7 linked regions of the Homo sapiens genome follow. The protein of the gene in region 6 purifies or fractionates together with the protein of the main gene of each other region. This does not show direct contact. Each region holds a gene or a part of one and is shown on either strand. Other genes may lie near its edges. The genes, in order: SPAG9, FKBP5, IQCB1, GLUD1, HADHA, PSKH2 and MYO5A.

Evidence for each region.
Region 1: the proteins of PSKH2 (region 6) and SPAG9 purify together in Homo sapiens (affinity purification with mass spectrometry; one large-scale study listed by BioGRID and IntAct). This does not show direct contact.
Region 2: the proteins of PSKH2 (region 6) and FKBP5 purify together in Homo sapiens (affinity purification with mass spectrometry; 4 studies listed by BioGRID and IntAct, with this or other methods). This does not show direct contact.
Region 3: the proteins of PSKH2 (region 6) and IQCB1 purify together in Homo sapiens (affinity purification with mass spectrometry; one large-scale study listed by BioGRID and IntAct). This does not show direct contact.
Region 4: the proteins of PSKH2 (region 6) and GLUD1 purify together in Homo sapiens (affinity purification with mass spectrometry; one large-scale study listed by BioGRID and IntAct). This does not show direct contact.
Region 5: the proteins of PSKH2 (region 6) and HADHA purify together in Homo sapiens (affinity purification with mass spectrometry; one large-scale study listed by BioGRID and IntAct). This does not show direct contact.
Region 7: the proteins of PSKH2 (region 6) and MYO5A purify together in Homo sapiens (affinity purification with mass spectrometry; one large-scale study listed by BioGRID and IntAct). This does not show direct contact.

Annotation. Positions count from the first base shown.
Region 1 is NC_000017.11:51,110,452-51,114,704, forward strand, and holds part of SPAG9 (C-Jun-amino-terminal kinase-interacting protein 4), read right to left. Parts: intron 1-4,253. UniProt on the Homo sapiens protein: The JNK-interacting protein (JIP) group of scaffold proteins selectively mediates JNK signaling by aggregating specific components of the MAPK cascade to form a functional JNK signaling module.
Region 2 is NC_000006.12:35,678,902-35,683,154, reverse strand, and holds part of FKBP5 (peptidyl-prolyl cis-trans isomerase FKBP5), read left to right. Parts: intron 1-4,253. UniProt on the Homo sapiens protein: Immunophilin protein with PPIase and co-chaperone activities. Component of unligated steroid receptors heterocomplexes through interaction with heat-shock protein 90 (HSP90).
Region 3 is NC_000003.12:121,800,345-121,804,597, forward strand, and holds part of IQCB1 (IQ calmodulin-binding motif-containing protein 1), read right to left. Parts: intron 1-4,253. UniProt on the Homo sapiens protein: Involved in ciliogenesis. The function in an early step in cilia formation depends on its association with CEP290/NPHP6.
Region 4 is NC_000010.11:87,091,611-87,096,632, forward strand, and holds the start of GLUD1 (glutamate dehydrogenase 1, mitochondrial isoform a precursor), read right to left. Parts: upstream 3,234-5,022; 5' UTR 3,160-3,233; coding exon 2,715-3,159; intron 2,478-2,714; exon of another isoform or gene 2,369-2,477; coding exon of another isoform or gene 2,323-2,368; intron 1,045-2,322; exon of another isoform or gene 972-1,044; intron 14-971; exon of another isoform or gene 1-13. UniProt on the Homo sapiens protein: Mitochondrial glutamate dehydrogenase that catalyzes the conversion of L-glutamate into alpha-ketoglutarate. Plays a key role in glutamine anaplerosis by producing alpha-ketoglutarate, an important intermediate in the tricarboxylic acid cycle.
Region 5 is NC_000002.12:26,230,895-26,235,147, forward strand, and holds part of HADHA (trifunctional enzyme subunit alpha, mitochondrial precursor), read right to left. Parts: intron 3,462-4,253; coding exon 3,323-3,461; intron 1,386-3,322; coding exon 1,266-1,385; intron 1-1,265. UniProt on the Homo sapiens protein: Mitochondrial trifunctional enzyme catalyzes the last three of the four reactions of the mitochondrial beta-oxidation pathway.
Region 6 is NC_000008.11:86,062,793-86,067,045, forward strand, and holds part of PSKH2 (serine/threonine-protein kinase H2), read right to left. Parts: intron 1,840-4,253; coding exon 1,173-1,839; intron 1-1,172.
Region 7 is NC_000015.10:52,518,368-52,522,620, forward strand, and holds part of MYO5A (unconventional myosin-Va), read right to left. Parts: intron 1-4,253. UniProt on the Homo sapiens protein: Processive actin-based motor that can move in large steps approximating the 36-nm pseudo-repeat of the actin filament. Can hydrolyze ATP in the presence of actin, which is essential for its function as a motor protein. Involved in melanosome transport.

The sequences.
Region 1 (4,253 bases), on a different chromosome or scaffold from region 6:
AGGCCGAGGCAGGCAGATCACTTGAGCTCACAAATTCGAGACCAGCCTGGGCAACATGGTGAAACCCGTCTTTACAAAATATCAAAAATTAGCTGGGCGTGGTGGTGTACACCTGTAGTCCCATCTACTTGGGAGGCTGAGACGGAAGGATGGCTTGAGCCCAAGAGGCAACAGTTGCAGTGAGCCAAGATCGCACCACTGCACTCCAACCTGGGCCAGACCTTGTCTCGAAAAAAATAACATAAAATAAAATTCTATACCCTCAACTTGGTACTTCTCTATTACATTAATATATAAATTCCCATGGTTCACCTCACACATTTTTGGGTGTGCCTATTATGCCAAACTACTGAATGCTGTAATTCTTAAGAAAATAAAACACAGTATGGCCGGGTGGGTGGCTCATGCCTGTAATCCCACCACTTTGGGAGGCCGAGGCGGGCAGATCACGAGGTCAGATTGAGACCATCCTGGCTAACGCAGTGAAACCCCATCTCTACTAAAAATACAAAAAATTAGCCGGGTGTGGTGGCGGGCGCCTGTAGTCCCAGCTACACGGGAGGCTGAGGCAGGAGAATCGCTTGAATCCAGGAGGCGGAGGTTGCAGTGAGCCGAGATCCCGCCACTGCACTCCAGCCAGGGTGACAGAGCAAGACTCCGTCTCAAAAAAAAAAAGAAAAGAAAACACAGTGCTATGTTCAAAGCAATAATCAAATATCACTGGTCAAGATTTCAAAGTAAAAAACAGAACTTATATATACCCATTTCCAAATAACAGCTTTTTAAATATATATAACATTACATACATTATTAAACTGGTCTATGCAGATATTTCTGACCACAACCTAATAACTTATTTAGATAACAGCTGTATTCATTGAGTGCAGAGCAGAGCAAAATAACTTGGGTAGGTTCTAACATCAGTTCTCCTGAGAAGCAAAGTTCAGTACAACATAAGTAAGCAGCATGTAGTTAAAGGTAAGGTAAAGATTTCAAGAAGCAGGAATCCTGTACTCTCTCAAGCACAGAACTGGATGTGTGACCTATGGCACACACTTCAGCAATCCAGTGAATAGTCAATCTACTAATCTACCCTCTGAACCAGTTTGGTACTATACCCAGTTTGGTGTCCTCTTTTGTGATTTTTTTTTGTTTTGTTTTTTCTTTTGAAGACACAGTCTCACTCTGTAGCTCAGGCTGGAGTTCAATGGCAAGATATTGGCTCACTACAACCTCCGCCTCCCAGGTACAAGTGATTTTCCTTCCTCTGCCTCCGGAGTAGCTTGGATTACAGGCGTCCGCCACCATGCCCAGTTAATTTTTGTATTTTTAGTAGAGACGGGGTTTCACCATGTTGGTCAGGGCTGGTCTTGAACTCCTGACCTCAGGCAATCCACCACCTCGGCCTCCCAAAGTGCTGAAATTACAGGCATGAGCCACCATGCGTAGCGTTCTTTTGTGATTTTTAACTAAATAAAAATATGAGTGTCACTACAGCAGGGACACATAATGGTATCTCATTTAGATATTCACATTCAGAAATCTCAAATTTAAAAAAAGATGTCTTAATCCAGAGCTAGTCTTTGTCTTTAAAAAAAAATGTCTTAGGAGCTTAAGTAATAATTAACTAACAAATTATTATTTCATAAAGCAACAACCATACCCCTTCCCATCCCACTCCCGCCAGAAAACAAACATAGATTGTTCATTTCAGAAAGTGTCTGAATGACTAGGTGCAGGGGCATATCTCTATCTACTCTGGCTAGGGGCAGTGTGAACATTATTCGAATCGTTAACCATGGCCAGGTGTGGTGGCTCACACCTACAATCCCAACACTTTGGGAGGCTGAGGTAAGAAAATGTCTTGAGGCCAGGAGTTCAAGACAAGCCTGGGCAACACAGTGTGACCCCATCTCTACAAAAAAAAAAAAAAAAAAAAGGCCAGGCGCAGTGGCTCACACCTGTAATCCTAGCACTTTGGGAGGCTGGGGCAGGCAGATGACTTGAGGTCGAGATCAAGACCATCCTGGCCAACATGGTGAAACCCCATCTCCACTAAAAATACAAAAATTAGCTGGGTGTGATGGCGCGCGCCTGTAGTCCCAGCTACTCAGGAGGCTGAAGCAAGAGAATCGCTTGAACCCAGGTGGTGGAGGTTGCAGCAAGCCAAGACACTCCACTGCACTCCAGACTGGCGACAGAGCCAGACTCTGTCTCAACAAAAAAAAAAAAAAAAAAAAAAAAAAAACTTTGGCAGGATCCACAAGGCAGGAGGATCCACTTGAGCCCAGGAGTTCCAGACCAGACTGGGCAACATAGTGAGTTCAGCTTGCATAACATAACGAGACCCTGTTTCTACAAAAAAAATTAAAAATTAGCCAGGCATGGTGGCGCATGCCTGTAGTCACAGCTGCTCAGAGGCTGAGGAAGTGGGATCTACTTGAGCCCTGGAGGTCAAGGCTGCTGTGGGCCATGATTGCACAACTGCACTCCAGCCTGAACCTCATCTCTAAAAAAAAGAAAAAAAAAAAAACCCAACCAAAGGAAAAAAAAATCACAAAAACAAACAGTTCAGAAAAAAAAAATGGTATTTTTAAAAATATGAAAAAATGTTGGCCGCTGCCGGGCGTGGTGGCTCACACCCATAATCCCAGCACTTTGGGAGGCCGAGGCCGGCGGATCACCTGAGGTTGGGAGTTCGAGACCAGCCTGACCAACATGGAGAAACCCCATCTTTACTACAAATACAAAATTAGCTGGCCATGGTGGCACATGCCTGTAATCCCAGCTACTCAGGAGGCTGAGGCAGGAGAATCCTTTGTATCTGGGAGGCGGAGGTTGCAGTGAGCTGAGATCGCACCATTGCGCTCCAGCCTGGGCAACAAGTGTGAAATGCCATATCAAAAAAAAAAAAAAAAAAGAAAGAAAAGAAAAAGCAAATAGGTTGGCCGGGCACAGTGTCTCACACCTGTAATCCCAGCACTTTGGGAGGCCAAGGCAGGTGGATCACCTGAGGTTAGGAGTTCAATACCAGCCTGGACAACATGGTAAAACCCCATCTCTATTAAAAATACAAAAGTTAGCGAGGTGTGGTTGTGAGCACCTGTAGTCCCAGCTACTCAGGAGGATGAGGCAGGAGAACTGCTTGAACCCGGGAGGCAGAGGTTGCAGTGAGCCAAGATCGCGCTACTGCACTCCAGCATGGGTGGCAAAGCAAGACCCCATCTCAAAAAAAAAAAAAACAACAACAACAAAAGAAAATAGGTTGGGTGCAGTGGCTCACACCTGTAATCACAGCACTTTGGGAGGCTGAGGTGCGAGGAATGTCTGAGCCCAAATATTCAAGATCAGCCTGGGCAACATGGGAAACCCATTTCTACAAAAAATACAAAAATTAGCCAGGCATGGCGGCATGATCCTGTAGTCCCAGCTATTCCGGAAGTTGAGATGGGAGGATCGCTTGAACCCAGGAGGCAGAGGTTGCAGTCAGCCGGGATTACACCACTGCACTCTGGCCTGGGCAACAGAGTGAGATCTCGTCTCAATCAATCAATCAAAAGATCTATAAAAATATTAAAATATGTGTTTTTTAGGCCAGGTGCGGTGGCTCACGCTTGTAATCCCAGCACTTTGGGAGGCCGAGGCAGGGGGATCACCTGAGGTCAAGAGTTTGAGACCAGCCTGGACAACATGGTGAAACCCCTTCTCTATTAAAACTACAAAAATTAGCCGGGCGTGCTGGCGCGTGCCTGTAATCCCAAACTACTAGGGAGGCTGAGGCAGGAGAATTGCTTGAACCTGGAAGGTGGGAGTTACAGTGATCTGAGATCGCACCACTGCACTCCAGCCTGGGCGACAGCACAAGACTCTGTCTCAAAAATAAATTTTTTAAAAAATGGGCCAGGCATGGTGGCTCATGCCTGTAATCCCAACACTTTGGCAGGCCAAGGTAGGCAGATAACAAGGTCAGGAGTTCAAGACCAGCCTGGCTAACATGGTGAAACCCCATCTCTACTAAAAATACAAAAAGTAGCTGGGCATGGTGGCTCATGCCTATAATCCCAGCTACTCAGAAGGCTGAGACAGAAGAACTGCTTGAATCCAGAAGGCAGAGGTTGCAGTAAGCCAAGATCGTGCCTCTGCACCCCAGCCTGGGCAACAGAGCGTGAAACTCAGTCTCAAAAATAAATAAAATTAAAAAATAAAATATCAAGTGTGGGCCAAGTGTGGTGGCTCACGCCTGTAATCCCAGC
Region 2 (4,253 bases), on a different chromosome or scaffold from region 6:
CACACACACACACACACACACACACACACACACATATACGTATATATATACACACACACTTTTTTTTTTAAAGAAAGAGCTTGGGATATATATTTCTATACTTTTTTTAAGAAAAAGATTGGAAGAGACATATATATACACACAGACACATACATACATTTTAAAGAGATTGACGTATGTTTTTAACCTTTTTTTAAAAAAGAAATGGGATATATATATATATACTTTTTTTTCTTTTTTTTTTTTTTTAAAAGAGATTGTTTCTTGCTCTGTCACCGAGGCTGAAGTGTGGTGGCTAACTGCAGCCTCGACACAAACTCCTGGGCTCAAGCAATCCTCTTGTCTCAGCCTCCCAAAGTGCTGGGATCCCAGGCCCAAGCCACCATGCCTGGCTTAAAAATGTAGTACATTTGAATTGTATCCTTTTGAAATTGTTCGTTTTTTGGAAAGAAGAATAAGAGATGAAGAAAAATCAGACTGGAAGAGGGTTGTTTTTTCCCTTTTGTAGTTGCAAATCCTAAGTGGGCAGTGGTAAATTTCTAGAATCATTTGTAGCATTCTGTTTTAAACTTGGCAATTTAAAGATGTTATAAATGAGGAGTCCCCAGAAAATGGTCATTTCATTATCAAAAGCAGGGTTGCAAATTTCAGATTGATCTTTTCAAAAGTTAGATTTGTACTTGTTCTCAGTGTTCCTATCTCTGGAAACTAAAGAACCTCCTCCATTGTTAGCTGAAAATTGCACAGTGAATTTGAAAGTCAAGATGTCCCAGTCATGGACATAATGCTGCGATAGGTTACTTTTTGGAATGGAGAAAACATCTTAGAGATTGAGTCTGCATCAGAATATATTCTGAATGAGCATGGAATGTTCTTTACCCATGTTAGATATTAATTAATTAAGTTTTTCCATGTTTAACTTTTTTAAAAAAGCAAGACAATAAAAACAGTCTTGTAATCTGAACACATATTTTGGGTTTTGTTGCTAGCATAAAAATTATTACCTAGTGGATGGTAACACTGTTTTGAAATTCTAGCTTGGAGGAGATGTTTGTTACAAGAGAAAAGGTGTTTCATTGAAACCTAACAGGGTAATTTACATGGAGAGATACTTGTTTCTCTTTTGAGTTATTGTTAGGTTAAGACATAAACTTAGAAAAATTGAGATGCTCATCTTTCCCATCTTAGATTTACTTTCACTATGAACTTTATAAATTCTTTTTTTTGAGACAGTCTCACTCTATCGCCCAGACTGGAGTGCAGTGGCGTGATCAGAATTATTCAAGCTTATGTATGTGTGTGTATTACACATATATTACACATATGTATAAATATCAAATATCTTTTTTACATTATATATAATGGTATATATGGTTGCTATATGTTTTATGTGTGTATAGCAGTATCTATCTATACTGCCTTATTTCCCAGGCATATTTATATGCGAAACTTTTTTTCTGTGAAATCTTATTGTACCAAGAGGAATAAGTATATATGCCCACAAAAAGACTGGGTCATAGCAGCTTTTTTCACAGTAGGAATAAACTACTGATTCACATAGCAACATAGATGAATCTCAGAAATACTGTTCATAGCAAGAGAAGCCAGGCACAGATGAGTATGTATAAGTGTTTATGATGCCATTTATGAAAAATACAAGAACAGGCAAAACTAAGGTATGGTGATAGAAATCAGGACAGTGGTTGCCTCTGGGTAGGGGTTGTGGTTGACTGGAAAGGAGCACAAGGAAACTTTCTGGCATGATGGAAATATTCTGTAGCTTGACTTGGGTGATGGTAATTCAGTTATATACTTTTTGGGTAACTTCGTTTTCATGTAATTTTTAACTTACAGAAAAGTTGCAAGACTAGTACAAAGAGCTTCCGTATACCTTTATCCAGTTTTGCCAATTGTTATATACATTTACTCAAACATATTGATTCAAACTTAAGATTTTATAGTATGTAAATTTTACTTTAATAAAGGAAAGAAAGCTAAAAAAAGTGTTGAAAATGAGGATGATCTTGTTATCTAAAAAACATGAAATACCTCAGTTAGGAATTAACCAGTGGTTTAATAATGATGAGAAAAAGAATCGTTGGCTGTCTTTTGTCTTCATGTATATGTATTTATACTGCTTTTCACTAAAGACTCATGACATGTTTCTGTTAGAAGAAACAGGATCCTCAAAACGATTCAAGGTAGAACTGCCTACAAGGCAAACCTGCTTTATTTTGTTATCCTACACATGTCACCTAGGGAATGTGACTGAAACCTAGCAATAGCTTTCTGGGAATTGGAAGTTGTGACTGTTTCTGTTAAAAGAGTTGTATACCTACAATGTGCTAGCTGTTGCAAAGACATGAACAGTTTTTACTATCCTAGAACTTAGCCAAAGAAGAGGAGGCATACAAATCTGGTTGTTGTTTTTGGGTGGTGCTATTTTTCATAGGCAGGAAAGACATTGGTGTTTGTAAACTAAACTATTCTTGATCATTGGTAAGTGGTAAATCTGTCACTGTCTACTAGATTTAATGTTTCCACAGCCTCAATAGTGTGATTTGATTTAGATTAAATCAATTTAAATCATAGCTTAAACAATAATGGCTAAAAAAATTCAACTTTCCAATTCTACTACTTATTTTATGTAATTTTTAGTATGTGTTCATTACAATTTAGTATTAGGCATAATTAATGGATATTGGTTCTTTTTGTTTTTTCTTTTGAAACAGGGTCTAATTCTGTTGCCCAGTCTGGAGTGCAGTAGTGCGATCATAGCTCACTGCAGCCTGGAACTCCTGGGCTCAAATGATTCTCCTGCCTCAGTTTCCTGAGTGGCTGGGACTATAGGCGTGCACCACCATGTCTGGCTAATTAAAGAAAAATTGTAGAGACAGAGTCTTGCTGTGTTGCTCAGGCTGGTCTTGAACTCCTGGCCTCAAGTGATCCTCCCACCTTGGCCTCCCAAAGTGTTAGGACTGCAGGTATAAGCCACTGTGCCTGGCCTGGTTCATTTTTTTAAATCTTTTTTTTTTTTCCATCTACATCAGAAAGTTGTTTTATTTGGTCATATAGTCGAGTAGAAGATGTTTGAAGTAACTGGAGGGCTAACCAGATGCTTCAACAAATTAATCATTGATATTCAACATAAACATTTATTTTGCCTTTACTCATGAAAATAATAAAGTTATATGACCTATATATTTTTATTTATAAGTTTTTAAATTTAATATATTTTTATTTCAATAGCTTTGGAGTACAAGTGGTTTTTGGTTACATGGATGAATTATATCATGGTGAATTCTGAGATTTTAGTGCATCTGTTACCTGAGTAATACACATTTTACCCAATATGTAGTTTTTTATTCCTTTCCCCTGCCCTCTTCTGAGTCTCTAGAATCCATTATATCACTCTGTATGCCTTTGTGTACTCATAGTTTATCTCCCACTTATAGGTGAGAACATGCAGTATTTGGTTTTCCATTCCTGAGTTAGTTCACTTAGAATAATGTATCCAGCTTTATCAAAGTTGTTGTAAAAGACATTATTTCATTCCTTTTTTATGGCTGAGTAGTATTCCGTTGTGTGTGTATGCCATGTTTTCTTTACTCATTTAACTTATATATTTTTCAACAAAAACATAATTCTTTGAAGAATGACAGATGTCTGATATCAATCAACATGGATAAAAGGACTAACTTCTTCCATGTAATAAACATGTTCATATTTCTCTGAAATGACAGAATAGGCCTTTTCCCCTTTTATGGTCCATTTCACTATGGTGTTTAATTGATCAGTCGAGAATGAAGAAAACATTCTTTGAAAAGTATCTGCCAGAATTTTGTTTAGAATGGTCAGCCTTAACTGAAGATAGGATTTAAAAAGTATACCTGTAAGTAGACCTTTTTAGACTTTTTATTATGAAAGTTGCATACATACACAGAATCGTAGAGAATTGTCTAATGAAGTTCCATATACCTCCTCTCCAGATTCTTTAATGAACCTCCATGTACCCATTCCCCAGATTCATTAATTACTGACATTTTGGTTATTTGTATTTCATATATTTTTTTGAGACAGGGTCCTACTTGTTGCTCAGGTTGAAATGCAGTGGTGAAATCACAGCATGCTGCAGCCTTGACCTCCTAAGTACAAACAGTCCTCCCACCTCAGCCTCCACAGTAGCTGGGATTACAGGTATGCATCACCATGACCAGCTAATTTTTAAGTTTTTTTGTAGAGCCACAGTCTCA
Region 3 (4,253 bases), on a different chromosome or scaffold from region 6:
TTGTATAAGACTCATGTTTGAGCTTTTTGAAAATTGTACTTTAGTAGTTACTAAAATAATTTTGTTAAGAGAAAAGAGATCAGCAACATACCTTAAATGTAAAAATCTCTGAGTTGAAAGACTTTATAAAGTTATCCAATCAAAATATGTGAGAATCTTTGTGACATCTACTTCTGTGCCACTGTGTCTCTTACATGCTATTCCCTATGCCTAGGATGCTCACCCTGTCCCATCAGTCAATGTCATCACACTATTCAAAACTCAGATTAAAAAATATGCTCATCTCAGAAAGCCTTCTACAGATATCCCTATCCCAATCTTATCACATCTTTACTCCATATCCCACCAAGAGTTTGTGCTATAATGTAATACAGTAGTTTAAATGCTTTTAGATGCTCTTCAACCTCCTAATCTTAAAGACATCCTCTCTATACCACTACCATCTTATCTCTCTGCTTCTCTTCTAATCCAATTTCTGTTGCCACTATCTCACATCTCATTTCTCAAACCACTGCATCTAGTTTTCATTTTTTACTATTTCACTATACTATCCTTGATAAGTTCATCAGTATAACTTCCCAAATGTCAAGTCACATATATACCATAAGTGATTCTTTTCCTAGACTTGTTTGTATCTGATACTTTCTACTTACTCAGCTTCTGTGATACAAAGTTCTGGTCTCCCCTCTACCTTCCACCCATACTTTTCTGACCATTCTTTTTCATTTGTCTTTGTGGGCTCCACTTCCCCAGTATAACCCTAAAAGGTTATTCCCCAAGACTCCATTTTCAAGCCATTTATTTTCTCATTGTATTCACACTTCCTACTAATCTCACTTTCTGTCATGTTTTTCTCTACCATGTATAAGCTGATTTGTAAATCTGTAACTCTAGTCCCAATCTCTTCCAGAAGTTAGTTTACCTATTCACCTGATGGACATTTGAGTTTTAGCTAGTCCTTGTTTTTCACAAATAAAGCTCAATGAACATTTGTGTATAAGTCTTTATATAGATACTTACTTTTACTGCATGTTGAACTACCTATACTCAACATAACCAACATTGAATTAATCATCTGTCTCACAAAACCAACTTCTTATATATTCCACATACCACAGTCTAATCACCCAATACAGAAAACTTGGTATCATATCTGACTGCACCATTTATTTTATCTACCCCATATCAAAACATTCACCAAGTCATCATAATTTTTGTTTTAAACAGCTTTTTAAAAATATAATTGATATACAACAAACTGCATATATGTAAAGCATATAATTTCATCAGTTTGACATGTTTCACCAACATAAAACAAGAAAATGAATATATCTATCACCCCTAAAAGCTTCCTTGTATTTCATTGTAGTTCCTCCCTTGTTGCCTTCCCTATCATTCTATGCCCAGGAAACCACCGATCTGCTTTCTGAGAAAGTTCCCTTGTATTACTACTTTGCTGCAAGGCCTTTTTTTTTTTTTTTTTTTTTAATTAAAATCAGGGCTAGATAATGGATTTTGTCAAAAGCTTTTTCTGTATCTACTGATATGATGGTATGTTTTTTCCATTTTTAGCTTGTTAACATAAGTTACAATGACTGACTTCAGAATATTAAACCAGCCCTGAATGCCGGGATAAACCAGAATTATTCATGACGTATTAACTTTTTAATATATTGTTGAATTTGACTTATAAAATTTTGTTCAGAACATTTCTATCTATGTTTATGAATATACTGATGAGTAGTTTTCTTTTCTTATAATGTCTTTGTTTGGTTTTGGTATCAGGATAATGCTGACCTTATAGAATGAGTTGTAAGTGTTTCCTCCTTTTCGATTTTCTAGAAAAGTTTGCTTAAGATTATTATTTCTTCCTGAAGTGCTTAATAGAATTCACAGTGAAAAAGCCATCCAGACCTGGAGTTCTCTTTGTGGGAAGGTTTTTAGCTACAAATTCAATTTTTTTTTATAGCTATCTAGAGTATATTTGGGTTCTCTATTGCTCCTTGAGTAAATTTTGGTAGTTTGCGTCTTTCAATAAATTTGTCCATTTGATCTAAGTTGTTAAATTTATAAGCATAAAGTTGTTTATATTATTCCCTTGTGATATTTTTAGTATTTGTAGACTCTGTTACGATGTTACCTCTCTAATTCCTGAGATTGGTCATTTGTATTATGTCTTTTCCTTTCCATATTAATCTTGCTACAGGTTTCTTCTCAAAGAGCCAGTTTATGGTTTGTTTTCTCAAAAAACTTCAATCTTCCCAAAGATCCAGTTTATGGTTTATTTCTCTATCACGTTTGCTTAGAATTTTATTGATTTCTGCTCAACCTTTATCATTTTCTTTCTTCTGCTTAGAGTTTAATTCCCCCTTCTTTTCCTAGTTTCTTAAAGGGGAAAGCCGAGGTCAATGATTTGAGATTTTTCTTCTTTTCTAATATATAGGCATTAGTGATATAAATTTCCCCTAAGTATCATTCTGCTTTAATTAAGAATTTCCCCAGAAATTCTCATGTTGTTTTTATTTCCATTCATTTAAAAATAATTTCTAATTTCACTTTTGATTTCTCCTTTGTCTTGTGAGTTATTTAGATGAATGTTATTATTTCCCACATATTTGGGGACTTTTCAGAGATCTTCTTGGCATCAATTTCCAACTTAATTCCATCGAGGCCAGAGAACATACTTTGTATAACTGAAATCCTTTTACGTTGCTTTTTTCTTTTTTTTGAGACAGGGTCTTGCTCTGTTGCCTAGGCTGGAGTGTAGTGATGTGATCTCAACTCACCGTAACCTCTGCTTCCTGGGCTCAAGAGATTCTCCCACCTCAGCATCCCAAGTAGCTGGGACTAGAGGCACCTGCCACCATGCCCAGCTAATTTTTTGTACTTTTTGTAGAGATGGGGTTTTGCCATGCTGCCCAGGCTGGTCTGGATCTCCTGGACTTAAGTGATCTGCTCACCTCAGCAAAGTGCTGAGATTACAGGTGTGAGCCACCGTGCCCGGCCCCTTTTGTGTTTCTTGAGACTTTATTTATGGCTCGGAATATGCACCCTTCTTTGTAAATGTTCCATCTGCATTTGAAAAGAACATGTATTCTGCTACTGTTTGGTAGAATATTTGTAAAATGTCAATCAGGTCAGATTGGTTGATATTATTGTTCAAATCTGTGGTCATACTAATTTTTTTGTCTACTTATTCTATTAAATATCAAAAGAGGTATATTAACATCTTTTGCTTTAATTGAGGATTTCTCCTTGTAGTTCTTGTCAATTTTTGCTTGTGTATTTTAAAACTCTATTAGGTCAATAAACACATCCTTTTGATGAACTGACTTTTTTTATGATTATGAAATAACCTTCTTTAGCACTAGAAATATTCTTTGTTCTGTAACTTACTTTATCTGATACTAATACAGGTACTTCAACTTTCTGTGGTATAAGCACGGTATATCTTGTTCCACCCCATTACTTTTAACCTACTTGTGTCTTTATATCTAAGGTGCATTTCTGGTAGACAGCATATAGTAGGCTTGTACTTTTTAAATCCAATCTGTCAATCTGTCTTTTAACTTTAGTTTTTCCACATTTACATCTAAGATAGATAGGTTTAAATCTACCACTTGGTTTTGTTTCTCCTTTGTTCTTCTTTTTTTTTTACTTCCTTCTTCTGGATTGCGTATTTTTTAATGATTAATTTTTATTGCCTTTGTTGGCTTATCAGCTGTAAATTCTTTGTTTTGCTATTTTCTTCACTGCTTTGAGGTTCAAAGTATACATTTCAATTTCTCACAGTCTTATCACTTATCACAGTGATATTATACCACTTCATGTATAGTATAAGAGTCTTACATCAGTATACTTCCATTTATCTCCTCCCAGCCTTAATGCCCTTTTGGAATACATTCTACTTATACATATGTTCCTCAAATACAGCATTATTTTTGTGTAGGCAAACATATTATAGATATATTAAAATAATATAAGAAAAACTATCTTATATGTTTATGTAATCACCATTTCCGATACTCTATTTCTTTGTGTAGATGAATTTCCCTTCTGATGGAAGGACTTCCTTGAATATTTTTTGTAGTGTTGGTCTGCTGGTGATTTCTGAAGAAGTATTTCATCTTTGCTTTTGAATATATTTCTGCTGAGCATGTAATTCTAATTTGACAGTTTTCTTTTTCAGTATTCAACTGTCTTTTTACTTGTGTTGTTTCTGATAAGAAAGTTGCTGTCATCCTTATCTCTAT
Region 4 (5,022 bases), on a different chromosome or scaffold from region 6:
GTACATGTAGTAACTGGGAAAAGAAAAGCACAAAAACAGTGTGTATTATTAAATATTTACTTGGAAAAAGTACACATCAGCCACCAAGTCTTATAACCATCTGTTTCCCTTAGAGATTATTGCTAGATTGTTGCTTTGCTTCAACCTCAAGAATTTTAATTTAGAAAACTCAGGGATAAGGTTGTTCTTGAGGGAAAATGAGATACAGAAAGCTGAAGGTTGGTAAAAGGGTGGAGAGAGGCAGATGAGGTTTTTTTTTTTGGCAAAGAACCAATGGGAGAGAAGACAGGTTAGTGGGGAGAGGTAAGAAGAACGTGTTAAAATATGTTTAAGAGGGAAAGACAGAATTTCATAGGGATTATCCAAAGCATTTAAAAAAATCTCAATCACCTAATATATTCTGTGTTTCTAAGACTAGAGTGGGACTACAAAGGTTAACAATTTCTTAGACGTTAAAAAAGCTTTAAGAAAGAAGACCTGTCTCTCTTACAATGCACATTCTCTGCAAACAAGGGTGATAAATGGGTAGATAGATCTGGGGATGTCTTGAACACAAAGCATGGAAGGCTATAGTACCCAAATTTTGCTGATCATCTGTTTAGTATACTGTTTATTAAGCAAACTAAAATATTTAAGGGCTTTCATAGCTATGTAATCTTCCCCAATCCAGAAAGCCTTTCAAATTCCTGAAGATAATAAATTTGTCACTTTGTAGAGGCCAATTTTCTTTGATGTTCTATCAATGCTTGCAACAGTTTACTAGTAACAATTCAGTTTCTCCCTGTTTATATGCTGGGGGTTAATAGCATGTTTTTTTGTAAATGGGATAAACGGAACAGAAAATTGTATCTTACACTCTAGTACAAGCAAGTGCTACAGTAACAGTGCTTTGGTATGGCTGACCCAATTTGTTGCTAGGTTCAATATTTTGGCATTAAAACTGCTGTGGCAACAAGAGAAAGAGGACTCACAAACTATGGTAAACGAGTTGCTTCAGTGAGTTTGCGGAGCTGCGACTTATAAAAACAGGAGAGAGCTGGGCATCTGAAGAATCGAAGAAAAAGGATTTCAGAGACCAAATCATCCTGCAGAAAACCACATACACTGATTTATCTGTACACCTTTTAAAGGACTGGCAAATGCTGCCAGCAAGATAGTAAAAAATAAACTTGATGTCCGTTTTAAGAAAACGATGCAACTCAATATTTGCTAAACATTGCCTGAACTTCCTCCAACATCCTTATTTGCCTTTCTTTGGAGTCTGAACTTGTTTTCCTGGTTTGGATAATAAGGGAGTGGTAGGAAGAAGGCAGGCAAATGTAGGAGACTGACGGTGTGTACATTTTATACAATTTTGAAGCTAGAAAGGAAATCAGAGGTCAAAGTGGTTCAAACATTGGTTTTGGCTGAGGCAACCAGAGCTAGGGGATAATTAAGCTCCAAAGTTAAGTCCTAGAAGTGGGCGGGGTCAATGCAAATTTAGTAAATCTTTAAAAACAACCTTTGTCCCCCCTGCTGGGAACACCAGCACCGCTCAAGTTTTTTCCGGTACAGAGAGGATTTCTAAAAATCCTCATAAGTCAGCGGGCATAACTGAAAGACCACAGAACCAGGTTTACTGAGACATGGGTCTAGCCCAACATCCTCTGTGCTTCTCAGCCAATCCACCTCCAACAAGACTCCTCGCCTCCCTGGGCTCTTTATTCCATATAATTTTTCTTTTTTACAGTAGACAAAAGTGGTTTGTCCTTTCCATTTTATGTTACTAAAGAGGTATGATGCAATGTATTGGGGGGAAAAAAGCTCTTATTTGCTCGAAGAAAGCAATCTGACTACAGAGGCCAAATCTACAGACATTAAATGATTTAAACCACAGGATAACCCAGTGACTACCAAACATTATCTGACCCCTTTCTTCACGTACTATATTTTTCCTGAAGCTCAAATTCAGGGCTAGCCAGGACCAGTACACACCCCCAGAGCTATTTCATTCCATTGGCTGGCTGGCCATCCGCAGCCTACAACCTGTAAATTTACTGTCAGGACGCCAGGTGTTTATTTGTCAGAGATATTACATTGCTTGTGATTTTTTTGTGTTTTTCCTTTTTTTTGGTATAAAACAGAACTTGTCAGAATGGGAAAATTACTTAATTGAAACGATTAACGCGTGATTAGTAAATTCCTTTGGTTAATAAAACTGTCTAGATTTCAAACTTAGAAGCCAAGTCATTTTCTATGTTCGGATATCATCTGTCACTATTGGAACAGGAGTGAACAAATACCAGAAAATAATTTGACAGCTTGCATTTAGGGGAGACTCACAAAAGCCCAAGAACACTGACGAGGCATTATCACACGGGCAGGTCATTCCCTTTCCTAGAAGTGCATTTCGGCAGGACCCGCCGTGTGTGACACAGACACCGGGACCAAAAGGAGACCGGTGCAGCGTCTACTCTGCATGCAAGATCAGCATATACAGAGGCCCGGGGTGACGGCGCGGGGGAGGGGGCAGGCCAATCGCATGATGATTTTAAGGCGGAAAAATCACCATCCACAGAGCCGGCCACATCCGAGGCGGGGTGACCCGGGCGGGGACCCGGCCCGCTCCAGCTGGGCTGGGCTGGGCTGAGCAGCGGCCCCGCACCGGCAGGAGGCCGGAGGGGAGGGCCGCAGGGGAGGCAGGGAGGGCGGGACGGGGCCCGGCCGACGCTCACCTCCCTTGCAGGGCGTGCGGTGCTGGCTGTGCTGGGCCCGGTAGCCTTCGATGACCTCCCAGGAGCCGTCGTCGCGCCGGATGGGGAAGGAGAGACTCAGCACATGGTTGCAGGGCTTGATGATCCGCAGGATGCCGCGCACCCGGTTCCGCTTCTGCTCCTCGCTCTCCCGGGTCCTCAGGTCCTCCACCAGCTTGTCCTCCACGATGCTGGCGCCGCGATCGAAGAAGCCCTCCACCATCTTGAAGAAGTTGGGGTCGTCCTCGCGGTCGGCCACCGCCTCGCTGTAGTGGCGCCGGGCGGCCAATGCCAGCCCCGGCTGCGGGGCGGCGGCGGGCTGTCCCCGGGCCCAGCCCAGCAACGCGGCCGAGTCGGCGGACGCCGAGCCCAGGGCAGCGGGCCCGGCCCGGGACAGCAACAGCGCTTCGCCCAGGTAGCGGTACATGGCCACAAGCGGAGGGGAGGTGCGTGATGGTCGCGAAACAGGCGCGCTTTCTCAGACTCCCCGCGACTAGGGAGGAAGGGTCCCGCGCGGGTTGCCCTTTTAAGCCGCAGCTTCCTGCTTGCCCGGCTGTCCCCTCCCCTCGGGCGCTCGCCACCTAACGGGGAGGACGGACTTCGGGGACAGGGCGCCGCCCAGGGCGCCGGGCCTCCGCCTCCGCCGCGGCCTCCCCGGGCCTCGCTGGCGGCAGCGCGCGCCGGCGGGGCGTCGGGGGCGCGCAGGCGCGGGCGGGCTCGGCGCGCACGCTCGCGCGCCAGTGGGGAAGGGAGGGGAGGGGAGAGGAAGGGCGGGGAGGAGAGTGGAGGGGAACGGACGGGAGGGGCAGGGAGGGGAAGGTCGGGGCGGGTCGGGGCGGGTCGGGGCGGGCCCACGGGCGGCCGGATTTGCCCGGAGGCCGCACCCGCCTCCGGCGGGGCTCTCAGGTATGTGCGCCGCGGGGGTCCCTCAGGGGGGTTGGGGGTAGCCCAGGGAGGTCGGGGTCGGGGGCTGGCCTCTGTAGGGCGCTCAGAGGCCGAGTCCCCCCGAGCGCCGCGTGGGTGAGGCTTGGCGGTCTGGTCGGGGACCGGGTCATGTGAGTCACGGGCGCCCCTCCTTTCCGCCCGCGCGCCCTCGGAACGGGCGGCCCACCCTGGCCTGTCCTCTGGCGGCCTCAGGCCGGGGCCGGGCGTGCAGGGGCTGACACGTGGGCAGGAAAGCGAGGCAGAGCCGCCGCCGCGTAAGGCCGGGCTGAGGGCTCGGCGTCACCAGCCAGGGCTGCAGAGAGCGGCGTGGCACCCGGAGTTGGATTATGCGTGGCTGGCGTGAGCTGGAAGGGAGTCACTCGCCCACAAGCTCTCACCACGCGAGCTTTTATTGTCCCGTTCAACTGCTCCGCAGTGTGGAGATCGCATAGTTACGCACGTCGTGGTTGTGTCGCCCCACAGTACTGACTGCTTCACCTTTGCAGACAGAGGCTCCGGCCCGGCGCGGTGGCTCACGCCTTTAGTCCTAGCACTTTGGGAGGTCGAGGCTGGAGGATGGCTTGAGCCCAGGAGTTCGAGGCTGCAGTGAGCTACGATAGCTCCACTGCACCCCAGCCTGGGCAACAGAGGGAGACCCTATCTCCCTCTGAAATAGTCTAAAATAAGGAAACTAGAAATGCGATAATGCCCCCAGGAAATTCTTTCTCAGGAATATATGTATTTGTTAAATGGTTCAGTATATGATTTATTTTTTATTTTATTTATTTATTTGAGATGGAATCTTGCTCTGTCGCCCAGGCGGGAGTGTAGTGGCACCATCTCGGCTCACTGCAGCTTCCACCTCCCTGGGTTCGTTCTAGCGATTCTCCTGCCTCAGCCTCGGGGTAGCTGGGATTACAGGCCCGCGCCACCACGCCCGGCTAATTTTTGCATTTTTAGTAGAGACGGGGTTTCGCTGTGCTGGCCAGGCTGGTCTCCAACGCCTGACCTCAAGTGATCCGCCCGCCTAGGCCTCCCAGAATGCTGGGATTACAGACGTGAGCCACCGCGCCTGGCCTCAGTATATGATTTATAAGCTTTATGCTGTATGAGGGTTCAGTTATGTATTTATACATACTTGATAGGAAATGCTAAAGTTCACATTCCTATGGATAGCTTTTGGTGCTTTTCAAACTAACGAGGCTGGCACGGTGGCTCACGCCTGTAATCCCAGCACTTTGGGGGCCAAAGCAGGCTGATCGCTTGAGGCCAGGAGTTCAAGACCAGCCTGGGCTCGTCTCTATAAAAAGAAAATAAAAAATAAAGCTCTAATGACAGTCATTAAAACTAGCTGCCAAACACCACA
Region 5 (4,253 bases), on a different chromosome or scaffold from region 6:
TGAACAACAAAAGTGACTCTGTCCCAAAAATAAAATAAAATAAAATTCTCATATTGAAACTAGAGAAGACTGTGAGAAACCTGATAGTTTTGACAAAGTCTTTAAAAAGAATTTTAAGCTTAACAAAAATAGAACTCAGCTAGGGCTGCTTATATGGCATACTAGAAGAAAGGCTTCTAGCAACATTCAAATACCAGCTATAGTTTAAGAAAAAAAAAAGAAGAAAGAAAGAAACTCAGCAAATATTTTTGATACACATATATGCATATTCATTCTTTCAATAAATCCTTATGACATTCCTATGAAGGAAAGCACATTATTATTATTAGAAAATTAACACCATAAACCTTGTTTTCTTTTGTGCTCAATTGAGATCAACTTCCCTGCAAAGAGTATTTCTGTTGAGCCTTGTTTTCACTGAGGAATCTACAGTGCCAGAAGCTATAAGGTTCAGTGGGCCCTTGAGTTGACATTAAGATTGCTCTGCAGCATCCAGGTCTGACTGTCCTTCCCTTCTCCTTGGAATTCAAAGCCTGCTGAGCCTCTTTTGGTTCCATACAACACAGCAGTGAGAACATCCAAATCAGACAATGAGGGAAAAGGTCTGCCTCTTATATTTGTAATGAAATATTAATATGACTCATGGTTTTGAAAAACTGTTAAGATGGTATTATGTGGAAAAGGAACCAATTAAACCATAAGCTCCAGAAATGCAAGACATGCATCTTAGTTATCTTTATCCTTCCTCAGAGACTAACAAAGGACCTTGATCAATAATTCTGTGGAATTAGGCCAGGCATGGTGGTTCATGCCTGTAGTCCTAGCACTTTGGGAGGCTGAGGCGGGAGGATTACCTGAGGTCGGGAGTTCAAGACCAGCCTGGCCAACATGGCGAAACTCCATCTCTACTAAAAAATATAAAAAATTAGCTGGGTGCAGTGGTGCACGCCTGTAATTCCAGCTACTGGGGAGGCTGAGGCAGGAGAATCGCTTGAACCTGGGAGGAGAAGGTTGCAGTGAGCTGAGATCACACCACTGCACTCTAGCCTGGGCTACAGAGCAAGATTTTGTCTCAAAAAAAAAAAAAAAAAAAAATCTGTGGAATTGAAAAAATAAGTACCAGGAATAAAGTCTGTCACTGATCCTGTACACTCATATTTTATTTGGTTTTTTAATTCTACAATGAATGCCCATATTATGCATTTTATACAAGAAAACAGATCTAAAGAGGGCATATAGCTTCACAAAGGGGATGTTAGACTCACCATTTTGGGCAGCCTTTGTGTGCCTCCTGCTCCTGGTAAGGCCCCCAGCAAAACTTCAGGGGTACCTAATACTGTTTTTCTGTCTTTTGTTGCTATTCTGTATTGGCATGAAATGGCAACCTTTGAACAAATGAAAGAAAATTAGAATGTTAGAAAATGTAACTTAGTAGCAACTTGAGATGGATAAGGGTCTAAAGATTATTTATAAAGCAGGAATGTGCTCACAGAATAAACTGAAATTCCTTAGGCTGGCATTTAATAATTTCTAGAATTTACCTTTTTAGCCTTTTTTTCATACTTTTCCTCTAATTTACTAACCTCTTTTTGGGCCGTAGATCTCCTAAAAAATCTACTGAAAGCTAGAGAAGCTCTCAAGAGAAAAATGCACACACAATTTTATATGGACCCCAGGTTAAAAAGCCCCGGACTCTCCAATCAAGCACGTCTACTTACAGTGTCCTAGTTGGCTTTGCTTTTGCCTTTGCTCACACCATACCATATGCGGAATTGTTTTTCCCTCCATATTCTGGTTAATCAAATTCTGCTTATAGTTTAGGACCAGGCACAGGTTTTCTTAATTAATATAGTCATGTGTCACATAATGAGGGGGATATGTTCTGAGAAATGTACCATTAGGAAATTTTGTTGTTGTGTGAACATCGCAGAGTGTACTTACACAAACCCAGATGGCAGAGCCTGCTACACATCTAGGCTATATGGGATAGCCTATTGCTCCTAGTCCAGCAGTCCCCAACCTTTTTGACGCCAGGGACAGGTTTTGTGAAAGGCAATTTTTCCAAGAACTGGGGGTGGGGTGGGAGGGAGTGGTTTCAGGATGAAACTGTTCCACTTCAAATCATCAGGCAATAGAGGCCAATGGAGTGCGCAACCTGGATCCCTCTCATGTGCAGTTCACAACAGGGTTCCAGCTCTTATGAGAATCTAATGCCACTGTTGATATGACAGGAGGCGGAACTCAGGTGGTAATGTTCACTCGCCCACTGCTCACCTCCTGCTGTGGGGCCCAGTTCCTAACAGGCTATGGCCTGGGAACTGGGGACCCCTGTCCTAAGGGGCTACAAACCTGGACTGCATGTGACTATTGAATACTGTAGGCAACTGTGGCACAGTGATAAGCATTTCTGTATCTAAACACAGAAAAGGTATAGAAAAATGTAGTGTTACAGTCTTATAGAACCACTGCTGTATGTGCAATTGGTCATTGAAACGTTATGTGGTAAATGACTGCATATGTGAAAGTGTCTGGCACAGAGTTCAGCATGTGAAAAGTGCTCAATGAATGTTTCCTTTTCCCCTTCTTTTCTTTCCTACATGTTCGGGTCTAGTAAGCATCTCTTCTCTCAAATCTTCTATTATTTACCGTCTTTACTACTGACAAAGCACTTATATTATGCTTTATGTGTCTCAACCAGACTTAAGTAGCTTAAGAGCCTAGATCACACTTCTGAATCTTTGCCCTGCAAACTTGAACAAGATTTTTACAGCTGAAAAGGACATTAGAGATGCAGTTCAAATGAAAACATCACACCTTCATTTACTTGCTTTGTGCCACTTGCTCTGTGTCATGTGGATTAAGGATTAACACCTATCCAGAAGTTTGATAACTAAAAACAAAGCTATTTAGGCACAGTGGCTCACACCTGTAATCCCAGCACTTTGGGAGGCCGAGGCGGGAGGATCACCTGAGGTCAGGAGTTTGAGACCAGCCTGGCCAACATGGTGAAACCCCATCTCTACTAAAAATACAAAAATTAGCTGGGCATGGTGATGCACACCTGTAATCCCAGCTACTGGGGAGGCTGAAGCAGGAGAATTGTTTGAAGCCAGGAGGCAGAGGTTGCAGTGAGCCAAGATCGTGCCATTGCTCTCCAGCCTGGGAGACAAGAGCAAAATTCCGTCTCAAAGCAAAAAACAAAAAACAAAGCGGATTCTCCTCCAGAAACTTTTTCCAGGCAAAGCAGTAGCCTAAGGGTTTACAGCTGATGAATGCCACCAATGAGTTGGACAGTGTCTCAATAACTTTAGAATATCTATACCTCAAGTCCTCCTCCCAGGCAGGATCCATTGATGGCAGCCACAATAGGCTTTGTGGACTTTTCAAGTTTCTCAACTATTCTCTGTGCTTCTTGTGATAGCTGTGTTACTTCTTGAAGGGTCTTGCAAGCGGCTAACATGCTGCATTATCCATAAAAGTAGAGAACAGAGAAAAAGATAAAACTATAATTTATTTGGTTCAATACTTATTCACTATACACTTATCCTATCATGCATCAATATTTGATGACAAATCTTCAAATAGAAGGTTAAGAATGATTTTGCTTCAAATAGCACAATAGCAGCAACATCATTTCTCCATAAAGAGTGTTAAACTTCTGGATCCATGAGACCATCCCGGCTAACACGGTGAAACCCCGTCTCTACTAAAAATACAAAAAATTAGCTGGGCATAGTGGCGGGCGCCTGTAGTCCCAGCTACTTGGGAGGCTGAGGCAGGAGAACAGTGTGAAACCGGGAGGTGGAGCTTGCAGTGAGCCGAGATCGCGCCACTGCACTCCAGCCTGGGCGACAGAGTGAGACTCTGTCTCAAAAAAAAAAAAAAAAATTCTGGATCCAGAAAACATAAATGTGTTGCATAATTTATTTTTACTTCTGTAATAAATCATTAAATTACAAAGCTTGGTACAAGGGAAAATCATCTTTGGTAAATTACTTCACTATCAGATTAAACATTTCACTATCAGGTAGTTAACAGCAATAAAAATGACGCAAAAGAAAAGCTTCCAGGTTGTTTAGAGAAATCTAAAACATTTTAACAGATCCCACTAATGAATAAAAATGACCAGGTAGGCCAGGCATGGTGGCTCATGCCTGTAATCCCAGCACTTTGAGAGGCCAAGGCAGGTGGATCACCTGAGGTCAGGAGTTCGAGACCAGGCTGGTCAACATGGTGAAACCGCGTCTCTACTA
Region 6 (4,253 bases):
AGATTCATATTTTCAAACTACTTTCCAAGAAACCTGTGACAATTTGTCCTCTACTAGTACTTAGTGAGAGGGCTAATCTCTCAGTACCCTTCACAGCCATATGTAGAATTTAGTTGTTTGTTGTTTTATCTTTATGAATTTGAAAGACAATAAAAAGACATTTTTGTGTTCATTTGCATTTCTTTGGTCATTAGTGAGGCTGGACATTTTTCAGACTTTTAATAATCAGTGGTATTGCATTGTCTGTGAATTCTTCCCATCCTTTCCTACTTCCTTGTATAAATTTTAGCTCTCATTTATCAATTTGAATGAGTTTGTAAAAACATATACATGTACCATAAGGCACTAAAGGTCTGTCAGAGTGTAGAAAACATTATATTTAAATTTGGTGTTTAACTTTAATTTTGCTTAAAGATGTTGCTGTAGATATACACGTTACATTTTAAGTAGGTATAAGCAAATATCAATGTTTTTCTTCATGAGAAATTAGAAGTCAAATAAATTTGCTCATCTGCTGTACATGAAATGAATTTCCTATTTTGTCAGGCTTCCCACACACAAGCATTGGCAACTTTCCTTCCCTACCCAAAACAACAAAAAAGTTAACACATTCATGAACACTGGGAGTTTCAAGTTTAATCAGTGGATAAATATTTTACACAAGCTGTGAGGTTAAACATTTCGCTGAGAAAACACTTCATCACAAAAAGGGCTTGGATCATCAAGATTTAAGGCAGAAAAATCTCTCGCTAAACACCCAAGCGTCATGCTGAGTTTCTGTGAACACATTAGTCTAGTCAGCCAGCTCAGGCTCTGCACAGATTGGAGAAAAAAACTGCAGAGGAACTCATTTATCTACTTGATTGTCAGTGTCATGTGCTAACCACAGGCAGCTAGTAATGGAGGCCCTTGCTATCTTGAGTCAAATGGCTCTCAGTCAGGGGCGATTTTGCCCCACAGGGGACATTTAACAATGTCTGGAGACATTTGGGGGCCCCACAACTGGGGGAGGTACATTACTGGTATTTAGAGTAGAGGGCAGTGATGCTGCTAAGCATCCTACAGCACACAGGACAACCCCAAAAATCATCCAGTCTTAAATGTCAAAAGTGACAAGGTGGAGAAGCCCCACTCTAAACCAACACAATAGAAATAAAATAATGCTCTCTTACCTCTCCTGTATAATTATATTTGCCTTTCAGAATCTTCCTGTAAAGCCTTGTCTGGCTTTCATCATCAAAAGGCAGGAATCCGCTAAGTAAAGCATATGTGATCACACCAAGAGCCCACATGTCCACTGCACTGGTATAAGGCTTCCTTAGCAAAACCTCAGGAGCTATGTACTCTGGGGTCCCACAGAGTGTCTTCATTGTCCAGTCACCACTTTTTTTCCCGGAGTATGCCAAACCAAAATCTGTAATTAAAATTTTCGACTCTTCACCTGGATGATAGTATAAGAGGTTTTCAGGCTTTAGATTCCTATGAGTTATCTGCAGCGCATGCAAATACCTAATCCCATCAGCAACCATCTGGAGGATCCTGACGGCATCCCGCTCTGTAAAGGATCCCTGAGCAATGAGTCGATCAAAGAGCTCCCCTCCGGTAGCCAGCTCCATTACCATGTAAACTTGATCCTCAGTCTCAAAGATCTCCATGAGCTGGACAATGTAACGATGGCTAACCCGCCGCAGGACGCTCAGCTCAGACACGCACGCTTCTCTACCTTCCCTCTCTCTGGTTTCCATCACTTTTATTGCAAAAGGTTTCTTGGTGGTCTTCTGCTCTACCCTGACAACCCTGCTGAAACTGCCTGTCCCAATAAGAGCTTTGATGTCATATCTGTTGGGAAGAAAAACCAAACATGTTATCCCCAGAAGTGATGATTCTCAAAATTATTTAAGTCCATGCTTTATATCATCTTTTCTATCCTTCTATTCCTCCCATCAGATTTATTTGTTTATTATTACTTGTGTTTATTATTTTTTGAAAGGTACCCCAAATCCTGTTTTGAAATGGAGGAAAACGATATAAAGGTAATTTGTTGGTAGAAAGACAATCTTAATACAATAACTACCATTTATTATACAGTTATTATATGCCAACAATTTTTAAAAATCTTATCCCTACTAAAACCCTGCTGGGTAATATAATAATATCCCCCTTTTTCAAATAAGGAAATTCAGACTTAAAAAGAAGTTAAATGAGTTATCAAGGGCACCCAGATTGTGGTTGGAATGGATGGGATTCAAATCCAGCCCTTTCAAATGCATTTCACAAAAACTGTTTCAAGAATGTTAAGACCCCCCTCTACCAATTTCTTTCCTTCCTCTAGCCCTTGTTTTTGTCATTCTTCAACAACAAACAAATCAAGTGGGGGAGAATAAAGTAGAAGCTTACTCCTGTTTATAATTTCTCAAAGGCTGAGGATCCCATATCAGAAGACAGAGAATAAACAGTATGTTTCTTTGGGTTGCTTGACTGTGAGCTCAGCCCCAGGCTCATCTTGTACACAGTAGCTGTTAATAAGGAAGAAGTAAATGCAGCTGTGCTATTATAAGAGCCGGTTTCAGCAGTCTGGTGGGAGTAGTGTTAGGGCCACCTTGCAGCCAGTAGCTTCTCACAGTCTCCCTCCATCCCCATACCCACACTTGGAATTTCTCGGCAGTAAAGAGAATTTTAACATGGAATGTATGTCAATAATTTGTAAACCAATTATCCCACAAAAAGGCCAAGAACATATGTTTACCTACGTAACAAACCTGCACATCCTGCACATGTACCCCTGAACTTAAAATAAAAGTTGAAGAAAAAAAGGCCAGGATATCAGCTCAGATTTCAAATGCTAGGGATCTTAAGCTTTAATTATCTGTGTAAACGTCTATTAAAATTTAAGAATCTGGCCAGGCACGGTGGGCTCATCGTGTAATCCCAGCACTTTGGGAGGCCGAGGTGGGAAGACTGTTTGAGCCTAGGAGTTTGAGAGCAGCCTGAGCAAAAAACTGAGACCCCTTCTCTATAACAAATTTAAAAATTAGCCAATCATGATGCACAGCTGTAGCCCCGGCTACTGAGGGGACTGAAGCAGGAGGATCCCTCGAGCCCAGGAATTTGAGGTTGCAGTGAGCTGTGATCAGACCACTGCACTCCAGCTTGGGTGAGAGAGCGAGACCTCTGTCTCAAAAATTAAAAAAATAAAATAAAATAGAATCCTATCAAATTTAACCCTCTACCTCATATTTAAGACATGTTGAGAAAATGCTAGACTTAAAATCACGATTGTATAGCTGGAAAGAATATTAAAGTTGGGTATTTAACCCAACTTCTTGTTTTACTGATGAGGAAATTTGAAGACCACATTAGCCAATTGGTTGTTTACGTTGTAGAGTCAGGATTAGAACGCAGGTCTCCTTTTTTTTTTTTTTTTTGAGATGGAGTTTTGCTCTGTCACCCAGGCTGGAGTACAGTGGCATGATCTTGGCTGACTGCAACCTCTGCCTCCCGGGTTCAAGAGATTCTCCTGCCTCAGCCTCCTGAGTAGCTGAGATTACAGGTGCACACCACCATGCCTGGCTAATTTTTGTATTTTTTTTAGTAGAGACGGGATTTCACCATGTTTGCCAGGCTGGTCTTGAACTCCTGACCTGAAGTGATCTGCCCACCTCAGCCTCCCAAAGTGTTGGGATTACAGGTATGAGCCACTGTGCCTGGACTTCATTTTAATAAAACCTCTCCTAGCTAAGGATGACAGAGAATGGAATGTACTCAGGGAGTACCCAGGGAGAAGGCACGTTTTTATATCACATATTCAATACCAAAGATTCAAATGCAAATACTAAACTATGCTTTAAATAGTCTTACTTCTTTTATTGAGCTTATTTTTCCTGTAACTTTTTTTTTTGCCTTCTTGTTTGTTCTTTATATTCCTGTGTGTATTGAATAAAAATGACATTTGGCTGTACCAGATTACAGAAAACAGCTTTGTTCTCCACAGAGCATTTAATTTTCTGGCCAATTACCTTATCAAAACAGATAGCAATTTAGTAATCTTAAATAGATTCTTTCCCCTTTTCCCTTTCCAACTCTGCTTTTCTATTCACATGCATTCTCAGTGTGATTTTGAAGATAATCACAGGCATTTCAAATTCTATTGCTTTGCAGACCAACCAAGTTTTATATTACCTCTATTGTGGATGAAAGCACTTTGTAAATGCTAATTTATCGCTATGCCCTCAAAGCTGCCATCAAACTCATTT
Region 7 (4,253 bases), on a different chromosome or scaffold from region 6:
GTGGGTTAAAATGCAATAGTAACTCTAAGGGGCTTAACATTTTCATTTCTTAAACAAGAAATACACATTCCGACTTTATGAAAATGTAATCTAGGTTGTGGACCAAAATTCCTTATTATTAAGATATACATTTCCCAATTTTACAGACAGCATCTCCAGAAAAATTCTGCTCCCAACCCAACCATGCTGCTTATCAAACTAGAAGATTTTTTTCTAAGCTTAAGCATAGAGAGACCAACCCCGTGTAAAAGTTGTTTAAGTACTGGCAGAAAAGTGTTTTAAGGTGAGATCATATCTTTAAAGGAATATCTAGTCATCTTACTGTAATGCAGACCAGTATGGTAAGCTAAAAAACTAAGGTTGAACTAGTCTAGTCTAACTAGTCTAAAACTAGTCTAACACAAAAGTGTTTGTTTGAAACACATAAACATGCTCACAAACACAGAAAATGATTTATGCAAACTCATAAAAAATGACTTCCTTTGTGATGTCAGATCAGGGAGTGGTAATAAAGCAAAAACAAAAATGAAGTTCCCTCCTCAATCTAAGTTATGAAAAAAAGATTCACCCTTTAGTAACTTATTTTATTCCATTATAGGTGTGGGATGTATATATACTTCGTTATAACAAATCATAACAGGGCATAAGGGGTGGGTAGATAAAATTAAATAGTAGGGGGATAAAGCAGATGAACAGGTGGAAGGAAGAGAACAGAAGACAGACTACCACTAGACATGAACAAGGAATGACGGACAGGCAAAAAGAAATTGTGCACAATTCTTACTGTTGTGCAATAAGAAATCGTGCAACTTATCTATGTATGAAAATAGGGGAAGAGAATAACGTATGCAAGCAAGGATGTGAAGAAAATAGGGGAAATAAAATGCTGAGGAAATACGGTAGAAAGAAATCAGTAAGAAAGGTGACATAGGGTTCATAGCCCCCAAATTAAGACTGAATAATGGCCGGGCATGGTAGCTCCCGCCTATAATCTCAGCACTTTTGGGATAATTAAGTGGGAGATTGCTTGAAGCCAAAAGTTTGAGACTAGTCTGAGAAACAAAGTGAGACTCTGTCTCTACAAAAATTAAAAAATTAGCCAGGCATGGTGGCATGCGCTTACAGTCCCGGTTACTCAGGAGGCTGAGCTGGGAGGGCTGCTTGAGCCCAGGAGTTCGAGGCTGCAGTGAGCTATGCTTGCGCTACTGCACTCTAGTGTGGGCAACAGAACGAGACCTTGTCTAAAAAAAATAATAATAATAATAATAATAATAATACATGAAAAATCAAAATTGAAGACTGAATAAATTTTCAAAATTTCAATTTCTAACATGCTATTAGTAACATTTGCTTGCACAGACGCTCCATGGCTTTTTTTTTTGAGACAGAGTCTTGCTTTGTCGCCCAGGCTGGAGTGCACCGGCACGATCTCAACTCACTGGAACCTCTGCTTCCCGGGTTCAAGCGATTCTCCTGCCTCGGCCTCCTGAGTAGCTGGGATTACAGGCACACGCCACCACGCCCGGCTAATTTTTGTATTTTTAGTAGAGACAGGGTTTCACCGTGTTAGCCAAGCTGGTCTCAAGCTCCTGACCTCATGATCCGCCCGCCTTGGCCTCCCAAAGTGCTGAGGATTACAGGCATGAGCCACCGCACCTGGCCTGGCTTCTATTTTTCAATCCAAAATGATTCTCTAGGGGAAAGATACCTAATGTCCCCGGTCAAGCAAAATTTCCCATTCTTCTTGCTCAAAGATCAGAAAAGGAGGGGTAGAATTCCATGACTATCATTTTCAGTGACCTATTCATAGCATACATGGACTGAGGGTAGTTGTTTATTTTGACTACCTAGCACTTTTCCTTCCAATGGCGAACAGCTCACAGCCATCCCATGAGGTTGGAGTAGGACTATCAATCACAGTGCCCTGTCCTCCCCCTGGTCTCTGGGGTGAGCACAGACTTGACCACTCATGGTGCTCCTCACCTACTGCCTAGAGGCCCAATGAAAGGAGAAGGCACATGACCAGAATTCCTCTATCAGGCTCTCTTCCTCCAGGCCCAGTGCTGTAAGATCATGTGATCTGCAGGTGCCACTGACCATCTTTTCACCCCTAAAAAAAGCTGCCCTCAGGATGAAACCAATGTCAGACAGCATGTGAGAGTCAGTGAAGAGAGCCCCAATGACCATGTCTGAGCCTTGATTCCAGCCATGCCTAGATTTTTAAGTCACATGAGCAAATAAACTCCTCTTTGGCTTTGAGTTTGGGTTTCTGTTTCTTCCAACTAAAACAGCTGTGGCTGGTAAACTGACTAACACTGTTAAAGAGAGGTTTGGTAAGTCAATGTGCCAAACCTCTCATCCATAAATTACCCAGACCCTCTCTATTTACATCCTGTACCTCAGCTAATACCATAACTTGAAGTGATGAGTTTCAGAAATGTAAAATGTAAATGTTTAAAGTAGAAATTCATTTAAAATGGCATATATTGATTTGTTTCAAGATCTAAAACATATCCCTACTAAACTGAGATTTGATGTTACAAACTTCCACTATTCTGGATGTCAAAGAGTCTACTATAGGGCTGGGCACAGTGGTTCACGCCAGTAATCTCAGCACTTTGGGAGGCCGAGGCAGGCGTATCACATGGTCAGGAGTTCGAGACCCGCCTGGCCAGTACTGTGAAACCCCATCGCTACTAAAAATACAAAAATTAGCCAGGGGTGGTGGCACATGCCTGTAGTCCCAGCTACTCGGGAGGCTGAGGCAGAAGAATCGATTGAACACAGGAGGCAGAGGTTGCAGTGAGCTGAGATCACGCCACTGCACTCCAGCCTGGGTGACAGAGCGAGACTCTGTCTCAAAAAAAAAAAAAAAAAACCTCTACTGTATTCCCAGCTCACCTTCATCTTTCTAAACTAGAGAGTTCGACACCTTTAATCTGTCTAGCCTCTTCACTGCCCTGATCATTTTACTTCTCCTATTCTGAAATTTCTCTAGTTTCATGTACATTTGTCAAGAAGTAGAAACCCCAACCACACATGCAGGATTCCTGGCCAGGACTATATGTTTTTGTATATGTGACAAAAGATGGACAAAACCTATCTTTTTTGTGCATCCAGTCTCCCTCTAGCCCAGCATCTTGCCCACATTTTTGGCCACAGTAGTACATTAGGCCACAGGAGGTAGATACATGGTCCTCATGAACACTTAGTGCATTATGTACAATGCACTTCTCCCTTGATTTCAATCAAGTTTAGAACCATTATTTTGAAATCAAAAAATAATTACATCATCCCTAAGTTCTACAATTGGCAAAAAGCCTTTGCTGTACAAGGAGATATTTAACGCTAATGCCTGCTAGTTAAAAAGAATTCCAAGTGAGGAGGGCTTAGAAGAGAAATGGAGAATGCCTGAGGCATGAAGAGCCAGGGATAAGTTTCTGCAAAGTTTAGGTTGTATCAGCACAAACTCAGACTGATGTTACAACCAAGACAGATGGGGAAGAGGAACCGTTAAAGGGCAAAATTAACCAAAGGGCATTTCAGAAGGCATCAAAGGCAGACATCATTAATAAAGGCAAAGTGGTCAGTGTGTGAAGGAAAGATTAAACAAAAATCATCTAAACTCCTTTTATATCCACTTCCGCCTCCCACTGAAAATGAAACTCCACAGCCATGATCTCCAATGCCAGGCCTTTGTAATAAGTATCTCTATTGGTTGGGCTAAGGTGGAACCATAGCATTCATTTCGGAAAAACCAAAAAGAAAAAACTTCCTTCTGCCCTAATGAGCAAGCATAACTCCAGTAAACTCCCTGAAGATGTTGGGGAAGATAAGAGACAAAGCACAAGGGAACTTTTGGGGTGATGGAAATGTTCTGCATCTTGTTTGTGGCGGTGGTTACATGACAGAATATATGTGTCAAAACTCATCAAACTGTACACTTAAAATGAGGGACTTTTCAAGTATATTATACCTCAATAAAGTTGATGAAAGATTGGGAGTGGGGTGGTGCTGGGGAGAAAAGGACAAACTCCCTAGGAAGATAAATAGAATAAGTCTAGGAAGACCACTGTAGGATGGAGGACATGCCTTCAGGTGAGGTGGAAGAAGTGGAATTGCTCACATAATATTTTGTCTATGGCCAGACCTTACTCCACAGATCAGAAGTTTAGACTTCCAACAGTACCTCATACTTCACTGGGAATTGCCTGAAGTGGAGACAAATACATCCAAGTCTATCCTCTAGTGGA